5 linked regions of the Homo sapiens genome follow. The protein of the gene in region 1 interacts with the protein of each later gene in a pairwise test. Each region holds a gene or a part of one and is shown in the gene's direction. Other genes may lie near its edges. The genes, in order: TBPL1, RAB35, PTCD3, GTF2A1 and ABCF3.

What was found.
Region 2: the proteins of TBPL1 (region 1) and RAB35 interact in a two-hybrid assay, tested with the Homo sapiens proteins (one large-scale study listed by BioGRID and IntAct).
Region 3: the proteins of TBPL1 (region 1) and PTCD3 interact in a two-hybrid assay, tested with the Homo sapiens proteins (one large-scale study listed by IntAct).
Region 4: the proteins of TBPL1 (region 1) and GTF2A1 interact in binary tests that used the Homo sapiens proteins (3 or more experiments, as listed by UniProt).
Region 5: the proteins of TBPL1 (region 1) and ABCF3 interact in a two-hybrid assay, tested with the Homo sapiens proteins (one large-scale study listed by IntAct).

What each region holds. Positions count from the first base shown.
Region 1 is NC_000006.12:133,980,512-133,984,323, forward strand, and holds part of TBPL1 (TATA box-binding protein-like 1), read left to right. Parts: intron 1-2,056; coding exon 2,057-2,139; intron 2,140-2,305; coding exon 2,306-2,369; intron 2,370-3,812. UniProt on the Homo sapiens protein: Part of a specialized transcription system that mediates the transcription of most ribosomal proteins through the 5'-TCT-3' motif which is a core promoter element at these genes. Seems to also mediate the transcription of NF1. Does not bind the TATA box.
Region 2 is NC_000012.12:120,097,006-120,099,894, reverse strand, and holds part of RAB35 (ras-related protein Rab-35), read left to right. Parts: intron 1-740; coding exon 741-865; intron 866-959; coding exon 960-1,084; intron 1,085-2,521; coding exon 2,522-2,650; 3' UTR 2,651-2,889. UniProt on the Homo sapiens protein: The small GTPases Rab are key regulators of intracellular membrane trafficking, from the formation of transport vesicles to their fusion with membranes.
Region 3 is NC_000002.12:86,126,673-86,130,484, forward strand, and holds part of PTCD3 (small ribosomal subunit protein mS39 precursor), read left to right. Parts: intron 1-488; coding exon 489-633; intron 634-1,268; coding exon 1,269-1,319; intron 1,320-3,812. UniProt on the Homo sapiens protein: Mitochondrial RNA-binding protein that has a role in mitochondrial translation.
Region 4 is NC_000014.9:81,189,661-81,193,472, reverse strand, and holds part of GTF2A1 (transcription initiation factor IIA subunit 1), read left to right. Parts: intron 1-633; coding exon 634-954; intron 955-3,812. UniProt on the Homo sapiens protein: TFIIA is a component of the transcription machinery of RNA polymerase II and plays an important role in transcriptional activation. TFIIA in a complex with TBP mediates transcriptional activity.
Region 5 is NC_000003.12:184,191,540-184,194,505, forward strand, and holds the end of ABCF3 (ATP-binding cassette sub-family F member 3), read left to right. Parts: intron 1-1,061; coding exon 1,062-1,150; intron 1,151-1,265; coding exon 1,266-1,357; intron 1,358-1,562; coding exon 1,563-1,695; intron 1,696-1,825; coding exon 1,826-1,913; intron 1,914-2,000; coding exon 2,001-2,159; 3' UTR 2,160-2,466; downstream 2,467-2,966.

The sequences.
Region 1 (3,812 bases):
TTATTTTAACTGAAGAAAGGGACCTTTATATTCGCACATGTACCTATTCAAATATGATTATATTTGAATTATATTTGAATGATGCCTTAATATATATTATAATTTTTATAATATTTTAATTGTCATATTCTTTAACAAAGGTAGATGGTTTTCTTTCATAACAAACTGCTGAAAATAATATGATTTATATCTTAACCTGGACATCTTAAATTTTAGTTTTTGTTAAACCTGTAATATTTTAAAGCCTGAATATTAATAAGTAATAATAAAACCTTAGTGTTTTGAGATTAACATTATAAAAGACATTGGATGTCATTATAAACCAAAGATTGACGAGAGGAATATGTATTTTACACATTTGTTATGAAAATTAAGAATGTATCTCAAGGCTCTATTTAGCTTTAAAAATTAGATGCCAGGATACCTATGTAAATTGCCATTAATTAATTAATTTTTTTTTTTTTTTTTTTTTTTTGAGACGGAGTCTCACTCTTCCGCCAGGCTGGAGTGCAATGCAGTGGCATGATCACAGCTCACTGCAACCTCTGCCTCCCAGGTTCAAGCAATTCTCCTGTCTCAGCCTCCCAAGTAGCTAGGATTACAGGTGCACACCACCACGCTCAGCTAATTTTTGTATTTTTAGTAGAGACGGGGTTTCACCGTGTTGGCCAGGATGGTCTCAATCTCTTGACCTTGTGATCCACCCACCTCAGCCTTCCAAAGTACTGGGATTATAGGCGTGAGCCACCGTGCCTGGCCGTCATTAATTCTTAGTACTAGAAACTAAGTAAAGATGAATTAAATTCAATTAAAAATTTCAGTGACTCACAAAGATTTTCAAGTTTGTCAGCAATCCCATCCTTCCTTTAGAAAAGTAATAAATATGTCTGCTCAAAAGTTTAGAGAGGAATATGCCTAACACTGCTTTGGTACTTCAGCATGACATATGGAAAGGAAGTAGTTTTTTTAAGGCAGGTTAATTGAAAATTCTGAGTTGATAGACAAGCTGGTGATGGTGAGAGACAATTAAATGTAGGATAAACTCAGTCAAGTGTTTCTCAGTCACTTGTATATGAAATTTTATAATGTATTTTAGTTCAAATTTTATCTTGATCTTTGGTGAATTTTGAGTCTGCCCAGATTTAATAGCTTTCTAGTTTGATAATATGGCATATGACAGAGAATGAAGAACACAAAATGTAACAAAAATTTTAAGCAGAAACATCTGATTCATTTATGTTAGTCAGTGAGCATTTATGTCTTTCTTACATAGAATGAGCATCTAACAAATATTTCCATTAATGAAAAGTTGGAATGAAAATTTAAATTTGCATATTTTCTTGGAGCTTAGTCCTTGACCTATTTATACACACTCTGTAGTTATTTCATTGTAACCCATAGCTTTAAATGAATTTCCAATTACATCTCCAGCTCCAACATTTCTCCTTTATTCAAGATGCCGATGTTGAACTTGAGTATGTAATAAGCATCTCAACTCTAGGATGCAATATAAAGTAGTGATGGGTACCATGAAGCAGCAGAAAGCAGAATTAGGAATTAGAAAGCAATGAAGGGATGGGTGTTTCAGGGAAATGATTAGGGAGGGCCTCTCTTCAGGAGGTGACATCTGGTAAGAGACCTGAATGAAGTGAGAATATTGAGGGGATAATATTCCAAATGAAAGCAACAGCTACTGCAAAGCTTCTGAAGCATGAACAGATTTGGTGTGTGTGAAGAACCATGCAAGTTCCAGTTATATGACTGGGGTGGAATGAGAGTTGAATTGTTTATATACTTGGAGTACATTGATTTCAAGTATATAGAGTGAGAGATTTCTATACACCTTGTATTTTTAATTAATCAAATGTCTTTTTGGATTAATATGTTCTTTGTGTTTGGTATTGTACTTGATTTCAGAATGGTAGATTTGGAGAGCAGTTATTGCAGTCTTGGATAAGCTTGGAGAGTAGTATTTGGACATTAATATGACTATATAGAACAGAACCTTATGTGAAAAATAATGCTTATGAGGTAATCAGATTTTTTTTCCCCCCAGAAAGTATTAATGAAGCTTAGAAAACCTAGAATTACAGCTACAATTTGGTCCTCAGGAAAAATTATTTGCACTGGAGCAACAAGGTAAATGCTACTTGGGTTTTTTGTTTTTATTTTTTACTTTTTCCCTCATGGAAAGGACATTTTCCTAGACTTAACAGCAAAATCATATGTAAAGTTTGTTATGTTCCTCAGTATAACATTTATTTCCTGTGTAACTGATAATCTTTTTCTTTCCTTAAAACCGTAGTGAAGAAGAAGCTAAATTTGGTGCCAGACGCTTAGCCCGTAGTCTGCAGAAACTAGGTTTTCAGGTAACGTTTTCAAATAGTATCTAAACTACAAATATTCAAGGACTTATTTTTATAGAATTAAAAATTGTAATAGACTCAAGAAATCACTATGCGTACTATTCTTATGATTAAACTTTTTCTAGGTTTTTTAATACTGCCCTTCAGTGTGAAAATTAGTAGCAAAATTTGGCTATGTGGGTATTTGTAAAGGATCCTAGCTTTTTCCCTAATTCCTTTCCCATAAAGAGACTTGTTTCCTCACAAGTTAATTTCCTTTTCAACTCTTTTTTAAGTGTTTTCACCTCTGACGTACACAAACAAAATGGTTTTTGGTCATCTCAAGAATGCCAGGTCAGAATGGTGAATAGAGAATGGCAGAGGCCGTTGACATGGACACACCAGCTGGCAGGCTCTCACACTTGTAACGTGACTGTCACTGGCATGTCAGCCTCATCACTATAACTTGATAGAGGTATACCTTTGAATAAAACGATTACATATTATGGACTTGCTAGGTCACTTGCAAATGATGAATAAATGAAAGATAAAGATGAGAATGGTCCCTGAAGATGAGGGCAAGGCTGTTTGGGATTGAGACAAGTTTGTAGAAGTGGGGATAGGAAGTTACCTTTCCCTCTGATGACTCAGTCTCTCTGAAGTAGAGGGTGATAGGAAGAGACTGAACGGCTGGTGGGGAGTGGGGGTTGGTGCTTGAGAAGGGTGGCAGTAGAGAGAGGCTTGAGTTGTACTGTGATTTGAGAGTGCTGCCACTTTGCGGTTTCCTGGCTTTGCGCAACTGCTGTGTGCAAGGCTGAGTTGAAGGATAGTTCGCTCACCCAAAATTGTGGTTTTAGGAGGAATGTTTGAAAAGATAATGAGATGAAACGAAGATGTTGGTTGGAGTGGCCAAAGTTATTAATGTTAACAGCATTATTTTCAGCCTTGGAACTTCTTTTCTTAGTGTAACATTAGAAGTGTTGAGAGAAATCCCAATTAGTTAGAAACAAATTTATCACTCTATCCCCAGAAAGAAAATAAACATCTAGCTAATCTCACAGAAATGTCATTTTGCCTTATTGCATATGAGAAAAACATCTGACTTTTGGAGCCCAGTGTACACTCTGTATTTACTGACTTTAAAGTGACATCTTTTCCATTTTTACTCTAGCAGGATGACCTGGACTTAAATTTTTTTTCCCTCACTATTCTCTCTCCTTTCTCAGTAGTTTTAAATATTTCACTTAAAGTATTAAAAAATTAAACATATGATTAGAAAGACCCATACTGTTTTGATCATGCAAATACCTCAGTTTTTAATTTTTTTAATGGAGTTTTTGAGCTTTTTAAAAAACTGAATTAAAGCTTTCCATGCTACACAACTTACAGTACTAAACATACACTTAAAATGTTTTTGTTTTATCTTGTTTGCTCTTGTTTTTAAGGATTGCCATTATGAGCAGATTT
Region 2 (2,889 bases), on another chromosome or scaffold:
GCTGTGGTCCCCCTCCTCCTCCGGGGATTGATGTCGTCCTGTGCCACTGGGATGAATGGGGACATGGGGTCTGGAGAGGAGAGTTGGGCCTCCCCTTCCTTCTGGCCTTCCTGGCTGGCCCTGGGCTCTGCATGTTTGGGGTGATGGCTTTGCTGGGCGCCCTCTCCCCAGCCATCCCTGGATGCTTGTGTGGCTTCCATGCTTTTCCTGCCACCTGCACAGATGAGCCAAGAGTAGCAGGAAGGGAGGTGCCTACCTGCCCCAGGGGAGGGGCACAGACTTTGCCAGGGCGTCATGATGGTGTGGCTTCTTGGAAAGGTTCTCTAAAACAGGTTTGAGGAGCAAATATTTTTTTGAATGTTCAAAGACAGTGATAACATGATGTCAAATACAAAAACTGCCTGATTTCCCAAAATAAAGCAAGAACTTCAAAGATGTTTCAAGCCTGCAGCAGACTCTGAACAGCAGGAGGTGACTCCTCAGACCTGCTCTGCTGCCCAGGGGCTGGCCCTCCCGCCCTGTTGGTGCCCCGGGCGGGCAGGGGGAGTCAGTGCTGCCGCAGTAGCCTCTCCTGCTGGCCTGTTGTGGCTCGGGGGCATCTGCCGAGGCTGAGTGAGAGCCCAGGCTCCAGGGCCACCCTCACCTTTTCCGGGTCAGTGTCCTGACGTGGGCAGGTGGGTCCCGGCAAGGGGGTGACTCCTGTCGGGGTTGACATGCTGCCGCACACTCTGGCCCTGCAGGTATTATCGGGGGACCCACGGGGTCATTGTGGTTTACGACGTCACCAGTGCCGAGTCCTTTGTCAACGTCAAGCGGTGGCTTCACGAAATCAACCAGAACTGTGATGATGTGTGCCGAATATTAGGTGAGGCTGCACTCAGGGCCGGGTCGGGGTTGGGTGGGAGAGAGGCAGCCGGCTGCGCCCCTCAGGGCTGCGCTGACTCTGCCTTCGTTTGAAGTGGGTAATAAGAATGACGACCCTGAGCGGAAGGTGGTGGAGACGGAAGATGCCTACAAATTCGCCGGGCAGATGGGCATCCAGTTGTTCGAGACCAGCGCCAAGGAGAATGTCAACGTGGAAGAGGTGAGGCCCTGGGCCACTGTGGCTCTGCCACACACCCGTGGCCGCCTTCTCCATGCTGCTGGCCTGCTTGAGGCATCTAAATGACCAACAGAAAATGTCATAGTAACTGCCATTTATTGAGTGCCTACTATGTGCCAGGCCCTTTAACGATCTTAGTTCATAGTTCAACAGTCCTCTGAGGTAGGTACAATTATACCCACATTTCAAATAGGGAAACTGAGGCTCCAAGTGTTGAAGTAACTCAAGGACCACCACCTGGCTAGTAAGAGACTGAGTAAACCTCTGTCCCACACCAAAGCCAAGCACAGTTTCCACTCCAGTCCTCTGCCTCATTGGCCGCCTTGTGCTGTGTGGAGCCCAGAGGCCTGTGGAAGTCGAGGATCCCACTGCTTCAGGGCACAGGGGCCACACAGCAGCGGGCACAGGCTCCTTTGTAAGTCAGGCTGGTGTCCTGATGCTGGCCCATCCACCTGGGCCTGTGGGCAAGGCTGGTATGACCTTGGGCGGTGACTTCACCTCTCTGGGCCCCACATGCCATGAAGTGGCGTGGAGCAGGCAGACCCCGGGTCACCTATGTCCGTGAACAGCAGGGGCACTTTCATCTGTCATGTCATAAGATTCCAGCTGGGCCGGGCGCGCCGGCTCACGCCTGTAATCTCAGTGCTTTGGGAGGCCGAGGCGGGCGGATCACGAGGTCAGGAGATCGAGACCATCCTGGCTAACATGGTGGAACCCTGTCTCTACTAAAAATACAAAAAAATTAGCCGGGCGTGGTGGTGGGCGCCTGTAGTCCCAGCTACTCGGGAGGCTGAGGCAGGAGAATGGTGTGAACCAGGGAGGCAGAGTTTGCAGTGAGCTGAGATCACGCCACTGCACTCCAGCCTGGGCGACAGAGCGAGACTCCATCTCACAAAAAAAAAAAAAAAAAAAAGATTCCAGCTGAAGGAAAGGGGTTGGTCTCTCTAAAAGAAGGACTGGAAAACCCCTGTGAGATTGACTTCCCCAAGTCCACACAGCTCATGGGCCTCTGATGGTGTTCCTTTTTTCAGACTTATTTATTTGTTGAGTCAGGGTCTAACTCTGTCATCCAGGCTGGAGTGCAGTGGTGTGTTCACAGCCCACTGTAGTCTCGATCTCCTGGGCTCAAGTAATCCTCCCACCTTAGCTTCTCAAGTAGCTGGGACTACAGGTGTGCACCACCACTCCCGGCTAATTTTTGTGTTTTTTGTAGAGGTGGGGTTTTAGCAATGTTGTTCCTTTTTGACCTTTAAATAAAATAATTCACCACCTCCTTCTAGAATAGGCTTTGAAGACATACATACCAAAAATGCACAGGTAGAAAGAGCTGGGCCCCGGAAGGCGGGGAGGCAGCCGTGCAGGCCAGCAGGGGCCTCCTGGCCAGGTCTGAGGCGGGCCCTTCCTCTTTCCTCTCCACAGATGTTCAACTGCATCACGGAGCTGGTCCTCCGAGCAAAGAAAGACAACCTGGCAAAACAGCAGCAGCAACAACAGAACGATGTGGTGAAGCTCACGAAGAACAGTAAACGAAAGAAACGCTGCTGCTAATGGCACCCAGTCCACTGCAGAGACTGCACTGCGGTCCCTCCCCCAGCCCGAGGCCCACGGAGGTTCCTCGGGGGACAGTCTCAGTTTCGTGCCGTTATTTAAAGAATTCTCTCCATGTTTTTGTATCGGGAGGTGCCATCGGCACTTCCTCCCCCGCCCTCCTCGAGTGCCAAGAAGGTGTTGGACCAGCCCGCCCTTCCCTACTGGTGCCCCCTCCTCCCCGGCCAAGGCGCCTGGAC
Region 3 (3,812 bases), on another chromosome or scaffold:
ACAAAAATACAAAAATTAGCCGGGCATAGTGGTGCTCGCCTGTAGTCGCAGCTACTCAGGAGGCTGAGGCAGGAGAATCACCTCAGCCCACGAGGCAGAGGTTGCAGTGAGCCAAGATCGCACCACTGCACTCCAGCCTGGGCAAGAAGAGCGAAACTTTGTCTCAAAAAAAAAAAAAAACCAACCACTTTTTTATATCATACTAGTCTATTATTTTTGCGTCTTTTCTTGGAAAACTCTCCTAGGTAGAAGACTGAAGACAGTTGACCACCTCTATCAAGTGGGGTGGGTGTTTGAATTAGCAGGCTTCTTTAAAAGGCAGAATCATGGAACCTGCTAATTAATAAACAGTTCTTAAAAGAGGGATATAGTTACTAACCTGCTTTAAACATAAGCAAGAAAGCTAAATTCTTTACTTTGTATGAAACATAGATTATTGGACAGATTACCCAGGCATGAAAGATACTTCTTGTTTTTTATTCACCTAGGAGCTGCTAAGACACATGGTTGCACAGAAGGTGAAACCAAATCTTCAGACTTTTAATACCATTCTGAAATGTCTCCGAAGATTTCATGTGTTTGCAAGATCGCCAGCCTTACAGGTTTTACGTGAAATGAAAGCCATTGGAATAGGTGAGGATGCGCCCTTGAGTTCTCTGAGGACAGAGACTGTGCCAGCCAGAGGTTTCAGGGCTACATAAGCAAAGAGCTTTAAATTATTCTTGTGCTTACATAATATGTTGGAAATTTTCTTTCCATGTTTGGCACATTTACTTACATGTACTTATTATAGTGGGAGTGCCTTTATCATCTTAGTGTTCATTAGTATTTTAGGTACTTTGTTTATGGATCTGTTGAATCTGAGGAGAAGTGATTGCTTTGAGTTAGCTAGTTTTAAATTCATGACATTTTCCCAACATAATTAGGTATTTGAACCTAAGTGTGTGCTAGTGTATTGTATATTTTTCATTAATTACTTTATTGAAAGTTGCTTTGGGAATCAATTCACTTCAATATATTTTACTGTTCTCAGTGAAGAATGTGACTAATAAGTATTTGGACTTTCAAAAAGTGATACAGTCTTTGTGATAGTTTTTTACCTTTACATTAATGAGTTGGAAAATAACTTTGTTCAAAGGAATAGAAATGCATATTTTGCTTAAATATTAACAATATGTTTTTAATTCAGTGTGTCTCAGTAAACTATGTTTTGGATTGCTGTGTTTTTACCTCATTGTTTATTTTTTCTGTCTACCTGGTAATTTGAGAACCCTCGCTTGCAACATATCACCATATTATTCGCCTGTTTGATCAACCTGGTATGTATGGCCTTAAATTGTGTTAATTTATATAGAAAATTGACCAGCTTTCTTGAGTTTATGTGATTAATTGTTGTAGTTATCTTCTCTGCATATGAATTAAGAAGAGAGAATTTGTAAATTAACCTGTACAGCCTGAGCAGAAAGTTGTGGTTTTTTTAGATACAGGATCTTGCCCATTGCAGCCTTGAACTCCTGGGCTCAAACAGTCCTCCCTCCTCAGCCTCCTGAGTAGTTAGGATTACAGATGCCCACCAGCATGCCTAGCTGATTTTTTTTTTTTTTTTTTGGACAGGGTCTTACTACCTAAAATTATTCTTGAGGGTAGCAATCTTGTTTGTGGTCTAAAACTTGAGCTGGAGGGGAGAGGGTTATGGATTGTACTGGCAGTGATGTTGTACAAACAGGAATTGGGTAGAATATATTTTGGTTGAAATTCCTTTTGTTCTCTGGAGCTGTGCTATTTAACACCATAGCCACTAGCCACATGTGGCCAGTTAATTAAAATTAAGTAAAATAATAAATTATTTTGTCACATTGGTGCTCAGTAGCCATGTGTCTAGTGGCTACCATGTGTCGTGATGCAGATTCAGAACATTTCCATCTTTGCCAAAAGTTTGTGGACGTTTCTGCTCCAGAGGAAAGGTAAACTTATTGTGAAGCGTTTTGGGAGGACCTCAAGGCTCCATGCGTTGTCCACTTTTAGGTCAGTTCCAGTGGGAGCTCTGCTCTGTAGTAGATGGACTTTGAAGAGAGACACACCTGAGCTGAGATGTCCACTCTACCATTTATTTACCAGCTATGTCAAAGCGACTAGATACCTACCTGAGGAATAGCAGCAGGGTGTGGTAGTTAAATGAGTTCCACACTGTGTCTGCTACTGTGCTTGGAGGGCACATATGAGGCACTCAAAATCTTTTGGTTCTTGTCCATTATCCCCAGCCTGAGAAATAACCCTTGAGTTCAGAATTGACAGTTCTAGTCATTCTTTCTTGTGGATAGACTATAAAAATTACAGAAGGGAAGTTGTTTCTCTCTGGTTTGGAGGACTAATTTTGTAAAATCCATATCCTCACCTGTATAGGCAAATTTTATCTTTAGGAAAAGGAACCAGTTAATTGACTATACCTTGGAAACAGGTAAACAGTTTCCATAATTGTGTCCCCTAAAATTTTACTCAACCTTGGTGAGATTGTGATGGAGCTAGTATTTCTGACTCCAAAGTATATTCCTTTCCTCTGTAACTCTCATCACTGGTTCAATTGCTAATCAAAGTCAGATGTACTTACATTTCCTAAGTAACAGCCAGGACTGGGGGATGGGGGTTCTGGGGGAGCTGTGTTGGTTTGTCTTATGTATATAAATTTGCCTGTCTGCAGCAGTAGTTTTGGCTTACGCCTGTAATCCCAGCAATTTAGGAAGCCAAGGCAGGAGGATTGCTTGAGCCCAGGAGTTTGAAACCAACATAGAGAGACCTCCATGTCTACTAAACATGAAAAAAGTAGCTGGGCATGGTGGCGCACCCCTGTAGTCCCAGCTACTCAGGAGTGTGAGGCAGGAGGATTGCTTGTGGCCAGGAGGTTGAAGCTGCAGTAAGCTGCGTTTGCCCCACTGCACTCCAGCCTAGGTGACAGAGCAAGACCCTGTCTCAATAGTAATAATAATTTCTAGGAATTTACCCAAAAGAGAGAGCCTAAAATAACCTAGAAACAATACATTGAAAAGAGAATATTATGTAACTAATAAAATTAAGAATATTAGCAAAGGGAAGCATGCTTGAGTAAATTGTGAAACTCTATCTGTACTGTCATTACAGCTTTACTACCACAAACATACAAAACAGGTAGGGAAAGGAGTGTAGAGAAATATTTGACTGGGAATATTGCAGATGATTTTCTGACCTATTAGTGCTCAGTTCATGTTATATTTAAGAACTGCCCTGTCCATTAATTCTAGTTTACTTTTTCTTGACCTCATTCTGATTATATTTAAAGGGAACACAAATGATTACTAGCAAAAAACATTTTTAGCCGGGTGCAGTGGCTCATGCCTGTAGTCCCAGCACTTTGGGAGGCCGAGGCGGGCAGATCACGAGGTCAGGAGTTCAAGACCAGCCTGACCAACATGGGGAAACCCCTCCTCTACTAAAAATACAAAAAATTAGCCAGGCGTGGTGGCGAGGGCGTTAGTCCCAGCTGCTCGGAAGGCTGAGGCAGGAGAATCGCTTGAACCCGGGAGGCGGAGGTTGCAGTGAGCCGAGATTGTGCCATCGCACTCCAGCCAGGGCAATAATGCAAGACTCCATCTCAAAAAAAAAAAAATTTTGTTTTTCTAAGTATGCTGGTTTGGTGAGGGAGTGTGTGTTACTGTCTGCCGCCTACTTCAGTAAGTCAGGCTTCATGTGAAGAGACTAAAGGAAGGAGAAAGTCTCAGTGGAGCACATGAACAGAGACCTGTGATTATTCCAGATTTTACAGAGAATTGCTCTCTGCA
Region 4 (3,812 bases), on another chromosome or scaffold:
AGTAGACCCAGGTTGGCCAGGCGTTGTGGCTCACGCCTGTAATCCCAGCACTTTGGGAGGCGGGCGGATCATGAGGTCGTGAGTTCGAGACCAGCCTGACCAACATGGCAAAACCCCGTCTCTGCTAAAAATAACAAAATTAGCCGGGCATGGTGGCGCGCACCTGTAGTCCCAGCTACTCAGGAGGCTGAGGTGGGAGAATTGCTTGAACCCAGGAGGCAGGGGTTGCAGTGAGCCGAGATCACACCATTGCACTCCAGCCTGGGTGACAGAACGAGACTCCATCTATAAAAAAAAAAAAAAAAGGTAGACCCAGGTTTTCAGATTCTCAGTCCAGTGTTCTTCATGTGAAGGCAGTGTATAACTTTTGTCCTGGTAGCTGGCATATACATAGTATGTGCTCAATAAATGAAGCAGTTATCTTTAGAAAATCCTTATTTTCTAGAAATTTGATAAAATAGAAATTTAATGGGTCACTACACTAGTTAAACTAATTGCTTTTGTACTTTGGTAGTTTTTAACTGTGTATGAAATATGGCCATTCTGGTGAATCTTAAGCATTTGTTTCTATTTCTGTGTACCATACTTGATCCTCTTAACTAGTTACTGTTATGTGGTTTTCTTTTGCTTTAGGTGCTGGCTCCTCTTCCTGGAGGGATTTCACCACAGACAGGTGTCATCATCCAGCCTCAGCAAATCTTATTTACAGGAAATAAGACTCAAGTTATACCTACGACAGTGGCAGCACCTACACCAGCCCAAGCACAGATAACTGCAACTGGCCAGCAGCAACCGCAGGCCCAGCCTGCTCAAACACAAGCTCCATTGGTCTTACAAGTTGATGGAACTGGGGATACATCATCTGAAGAAGATGAAGATGAAGAAGAAGACTATGATGATGATGAGGAGGAAGACAAAGAGAAAGATGGAGCTGAAGATGGGCAGGTGGAAGAAGTAAGTTTCTAGTAACATACTTAAAATAATCTACTTGATTATTTCCTTTTTTAGTTGGTACAACACTGATAAATTATATCCTGTTTTTTTCAGAGACTGTTAGGTGCTGTACAACATAAGATTTTAAAGATAAAGTTAGATTGTTTTAACTTTAGTAAGGTTTTTATATTCTGGCTATATTTATCTTCATAAAATATAACTTTCATATAGCTGGTAATAAAAAATGTATAACAAATTAAATTGTATTAATATGTGTAGTAAAGAGTACAGGTAATTCTAACTCTGGCTTACGCATTTATAATGTGGCTTAAACATAAGACATTGGTAGATAAATAGATGTGGTTAATCTTTTGCTTCAGTAATTTAAAAAGCGTGGCAACATTTGGGGAGAGAGCAAACTCAAGAACCAAATGTCACAAATTTATTAAATATTTAAAACCTTTTGGTCCATGTTCTATACCACTTCCTTAAAAACCTATGTACCCTTAATGTCTGTGTTCTTCTAGAAGCATATAAATATGCCTTTGTTTTCCTCACTATTTCAGCTTAGTTACTAGGCTCCAAAAACTATTTGTCCCACCACAATTTTCACTGTTAATTGCCTTCGTTAGCCTAAAATGCAGTCTTTTTGTTTCTTAGTACAAAGTTCTTCTAAATTATCTAAGTAATTTTTTTTCTGAAGAAAACATAGTTTATTATTGAATATTGAATAGACACAAATGAATAGAAATGTTTCAAGATAAAAATCATCCTGGTGCCCACCATCTAGTTAAAATAAAATTCCATTATTTAAAGTGCCTTAGATGCCTCTCCCTAATCCCATCATTCCTAGGCCATCAAAGTACCTTTGCTCATACATTTGTGTTGATTATTAATTGCTTTTATATTTTACCATATATATTTATATTCCTAAATAGCATATTGTTTAGTTTTGCATGTTTACAACGTAAATGAAGTAATTACGTATTCTTCTGCAAGTTGGTTTTTTCCCCTTAAAATGATATTCCTGAGGTTTATCCAAGTTGTTGCATATAGCTATAATTATTTTCATTGCTGAATATACCATAATTTTATTTGTCAATTTTTCTAATCCAGTGGACATAAGGATTGTTTCTTGTTGTTTACTGTTACAAACAGTTATAAAATATTGTAGTGTATGTCTTCTGGGGACACAAATGCAAGAGGTTCTCTAAATTTTATACCGAACATTGAACTTCTGGCTCCTAAGTCATGCACATCTGCAACTTTATAATAAAATGCCAAATCACTTCTGCCATTCAATACATAATTGTGCAGATGTCCATACCCCCTTATCAATACCTGATAGTGTCAGGCTTCCTGATTTTTGCTGGTCTGGTAGGTAGAAAATAGTATTATTTCATTTTGGTTTTAGTTTGCATTTCCTCACTTAGGAGTTTTAGCCTCTTTTTGTATATTTATTTGATATTTGTGTTTTGTATAGAAGTGCTTATTGAGGTCTCTTGCCCGTTTCCTCCCCCTAAATTCTTCATAGTTTCAGTGCTTCTTGAAGTAACATGTTTTTATTACCTTTTCCAGTTTATTGGTAGGATGGAAATATGTAGCGCTTTTAATATTCATCCTTGAACCAGCCACCGTCCTAATGTCTTTTGTTAGTCCTCATAATGTATCTGTAGATTCTTTTGTATCTTCTGTGTAGACTTTCACATCTTATATGAAGAACGGCAGTTTTTTGTGGCTCATTGGCTAAGCCTTCGGGAACAGTATTGATTAGAAGTGGTGATAGCAGGCACTCTTCTCTTCTTCTTAAACTGAAAAGTAATCTTTTCCATGCTTCACTGTTAAGTTTAATGTTTGTTGTGGGTTTTCTTTTTTTTTAATGGATATCTTCATCAGGTTAAGTAAATTCCCTTCTTTGCATTGCTTTGTTTTTTAAACTGTAAGTGAATGTTGCATTTAATTAAACACCTTTTCTGCAATGATTTGTATAATTTCTCACGTAATGTTATTTATAATGGATTTCATTAATTGATTTTCTATTTGTAAACCAATCTTGTACTCCTGGGATAGCACAACTTGATCATTTTATATTTCTCTTTTTATAAATTGCTGAATTCATTTTGTTGAGGACTTTTTTGTAGATATTTATGATTGATAGATACTGTGTGATTTTCTGTTCTCATACTCTTCTTACAAGGTTTTCAGTTATGGTAGCTTTGTTAAATGAATTTGGGGACATGTTTCCTGTATTTTGAACTCTTTTTTTTTTTTCAAAGATTGTATTTAATTCTTCTGTTGATATTTGTTAAAACATGACACTACAGATACCTGGGTCTAGTAATCTCATGCCCTTCAAGTATTTTGTTTCTGTTTGAGACCGTTTTGATAAGTTATATTTTTCTAGGACTCTCTATATATTTATCTAAATTTTCAAGTTGATTAACATGAAGTTAATCATGATATTGTCTTTTTGATGCCAGAATCCTTTGTCATCTTCATTCCTAATATAATTATTGTGCCATCTTTTTTTTTCCCTGTTCAGTCTTACCAGGGATGTGTTGATTTTATTAATGTTTTCAAAGAGTAAACTTTTAGCTTTATTCTCTCTAGTGTGTTTTTCCCATTCTATTCTTTTCTGACTTAACTGTTTTGTTTGTAGAGAATATGATCTGTGTGATGTGTGAATCTTTTGAAATTGCTTGAGACTTGCTTGATTTGGTCAGTTTTTGTATATGCTTTGAAAAGAATGTGTTTTCTGCACTTGTTTGGTATTTGTATGTGTCTGTTAGATTTATATTGTCAGTAGGTTTGCTCAGATGCTCTTTATGTATCCTTGATATTTTTTGTGTGCTTGATCCATTTTTTTTTTGAGATGGAGT
Region 5 (2,966 bases), on another chromosome or scaffold:
ACATTGAGGAGAGAGCATGGGCTTCAGGGTCAGACTTCGGATCTTGACTATGCCATTTCCTAGCTTGGTTACCAAGCAGCTTCCTAACTCTTAAGATGGCGCTGACATCTACCTCACTTGGTTCTTGGGAAAAGTAAGTCCCCAGCACTTAGCAAATACTCAAGTATTGCTCACCTTAGTATATGCATTTTTCTGTAGAGTTAGAGTTCCTTTTTTTTTTTTTTCGGAGACAGAGTCCTGCCCTGTTGCCCCGGCTGGAGTGCAATGGCACAATCTTGGCTCACCGCAGCTTTCGCCTCCCGGGTTCAAACAGTTCTCCCTCAGCCCCACAAGTAGCTGAGATTACAGGCACCCGCCACCATGCCCAGCTAATTTTTTGCATTTTTAGTAGAGATGGGGTTTTACCATATTGGCCAGGCTGGTCTCAAACTCCTGACCTCAAATGATCTGCCTGCCTCAGCCTCCCAAAGTGCTGGGAATACAGGCCTGAGCCACCGTGCCCGGCTAGAGTCCTTAAAAATATTTTTTTGGTTGTTGAAGGAGTCATCGGGACTGGGGACTGCCTGGGACCCCTTCTAATTTCCTTCTCCTCTGTGTTACACACAGCGGTGCTCTTTTTATTGATACATAATTGTACATATTTATGGGGTACAGAGTGATACTTCCATGCATGTATACAATGTGTAATGATCAAATCAGGGTAATTAGCATATTCATCATAAACATTTATCACTTTATGTTGGGAACATTCAGAATCTTCTAGCTTTTTGAAAATGTACAGTCTATCATTGTGAACTGTAGCGTCCCTGCAGTGCTGTAGAACCCTAGAACTTATTCCTCCATTCCTCCTATCTAACTGCAATTTTGTTTCAGTTAACCAACCTCTCCCGAACCCCTCTCTCAATTCCCCTCCTCCCCCCTTATCCTTCCCAGCCTCTAGTAACCACAACTCTGCTCTCTACTTCTATGTGCTCAACACTTTTTAGTGCCCACATATGAATGAGAACATACCGTATTTATTTTTCTGGCACACACTGTATGACATTTTCATGTTTCTTAAGGTTGGAGAGAATGGGGCTGGGAAGTCTACCATGCTGAAGCTGCTTTTGGGGGACCTGGCACCTGTTCGGGGCATCAGACACGCTCACAGGTCAGGCCCACCCGCACCCCTGCCCCCATGAGCACATTTGCAGGCACCCATGCTGCCTGCGCTCCTTCGTGGCCATTGCCTTTGTCTGTTTTTCCACCTCGGCTTCTGCCTGCAGGAATCTGAAGATTGGCTATTTCAGCCAGCACCATGTGGAGCAGCTGGACCTAAACGTCAGTGCTGTGGAACTGCTGGCACGCAAGTTTCCTGGTGAGTTAGGGATTTGAGTCGGGGGAAGAGTTTGAGTAGGGAAGAGGGCTGAGGCTGACCCCGGCAGCTAGGCCTGCCTTGGGGTGCGTGCAGAGCAGCCCCGCCAAGCCTAGATGGAAGGACATGGGGACTTGGAGGTGTGGCTGGAGGGCACAGGGAGGGTGTTGGGCCAAGAAGCCACCTGATCTGGGGAGTCCTTTTCCAGGGCGGCCTGAGGAGGAGTACCGTCACCAGCTGGGTCGGTATGGCATCTCCGGAGAACTGGCCATGCGTCCTCTTGCCAGCCTGTCTGGGGGCCAGAAGAGCCGAGTGGCCTTTGCTCAGATGACTATGCCCTGGTGAGGCCTCATTTTCCAGAGCTCTTCCCCTCCCATTTCCCCTTCTTGCCCAGTAGAAAACTGTATCAGAAGGCTTTATTTTCTCTCACCGCACCCCTTCACTGCCCACCTTCCTGGTTCTGCCTTCCAGCCCCAACTTCTACATTCTGGATGAACCCACAAACCACCTGGACATGGAGACCATTGAGGCTCTGGGCCGTGCCCTCAACAATTTCAGGGTGAGTGTGCCTTCACCCTGACCACTCCTCCCAGGCCTCGGTGCCTCTTGTGTCCCCCTGAGCACCTCCTGCCCTCCTGTCTTTCAGGGTGGTGTGATTCTGGTGTCCCACGATGAGCGCTTTATCAGGCTGGTGTGCCGGGAGTTGTGGGTATGCGAAGGAGGCGGCGTCACCCGTGTGGAAGGAGGATTTGACCAGTACCGCGCCCTCCTCCAGGAACAGTTCCGCCGCGAAGGCTTCCTCTAGGGCCACCAGGCTGAGGACTCGCCCAGGACATGGACTGGTCTCTCAGACCCCTGGGCCACCATGTAGGCCACCACTCCAGGCCGTGGACTTCCCCCAACTTGGGGACAGCCTTATTCCCAAATGTCTCTATCCTTTTGACTGGAGCATCTTCTGCACAACCTTGGGAGCCCATCCAAGGGTTGGTGAGGACTGGTCTCCCGGGGGTGGGGGTCTGGGGGGTACCCTCTGGGGTTATAGATTCCCCCACTGCCCCAGCTCTGACTGGACCCCAAGTGGCTGCTATGTAAATTAAATCTCTCCCCGCGTCTCCTTTGCCTCATGTCTGCTGCTCCCTGGGCAGTGGTTGCCTCCTACTGAGGGCTGTGGACTCTCGGATTGGCGTTTTCCTATGGCACTTGTATCCCTCACGTGTAGGAAGCAATAGCAGCACCAGCCTTGCCTCTAGAAGAGACATTGTCAAGCTACTGGGGCATGGAGGTCATCTGCCTGCCTGACCTTGGGGTGGGCTGAGCCAGTGGAATGAAGGGCAGTGTATTGGCATCATTGCGGTGCTGTTAGCCCTAGCCTGGGCTCAGCCTCAGCTGAAGGGGTCTTGGGTTCTGTCGTCACAGCCCCCACTGATGGGCAGTTGAACTGATTGTGTAACCTGGCCTCACACGTGGCCAGCTGCTTTCTCCAGTCATATCTGGCTCCGGCTTGCCCTGCTTCTCTGCTCTCTAGACTCAGCACTGAAGAGAAACCATCTTTGTCCTCACTTTGCTTGGGTGATTGCATGTTCTTTATATTTCCTCTAACCATATAGGAGGG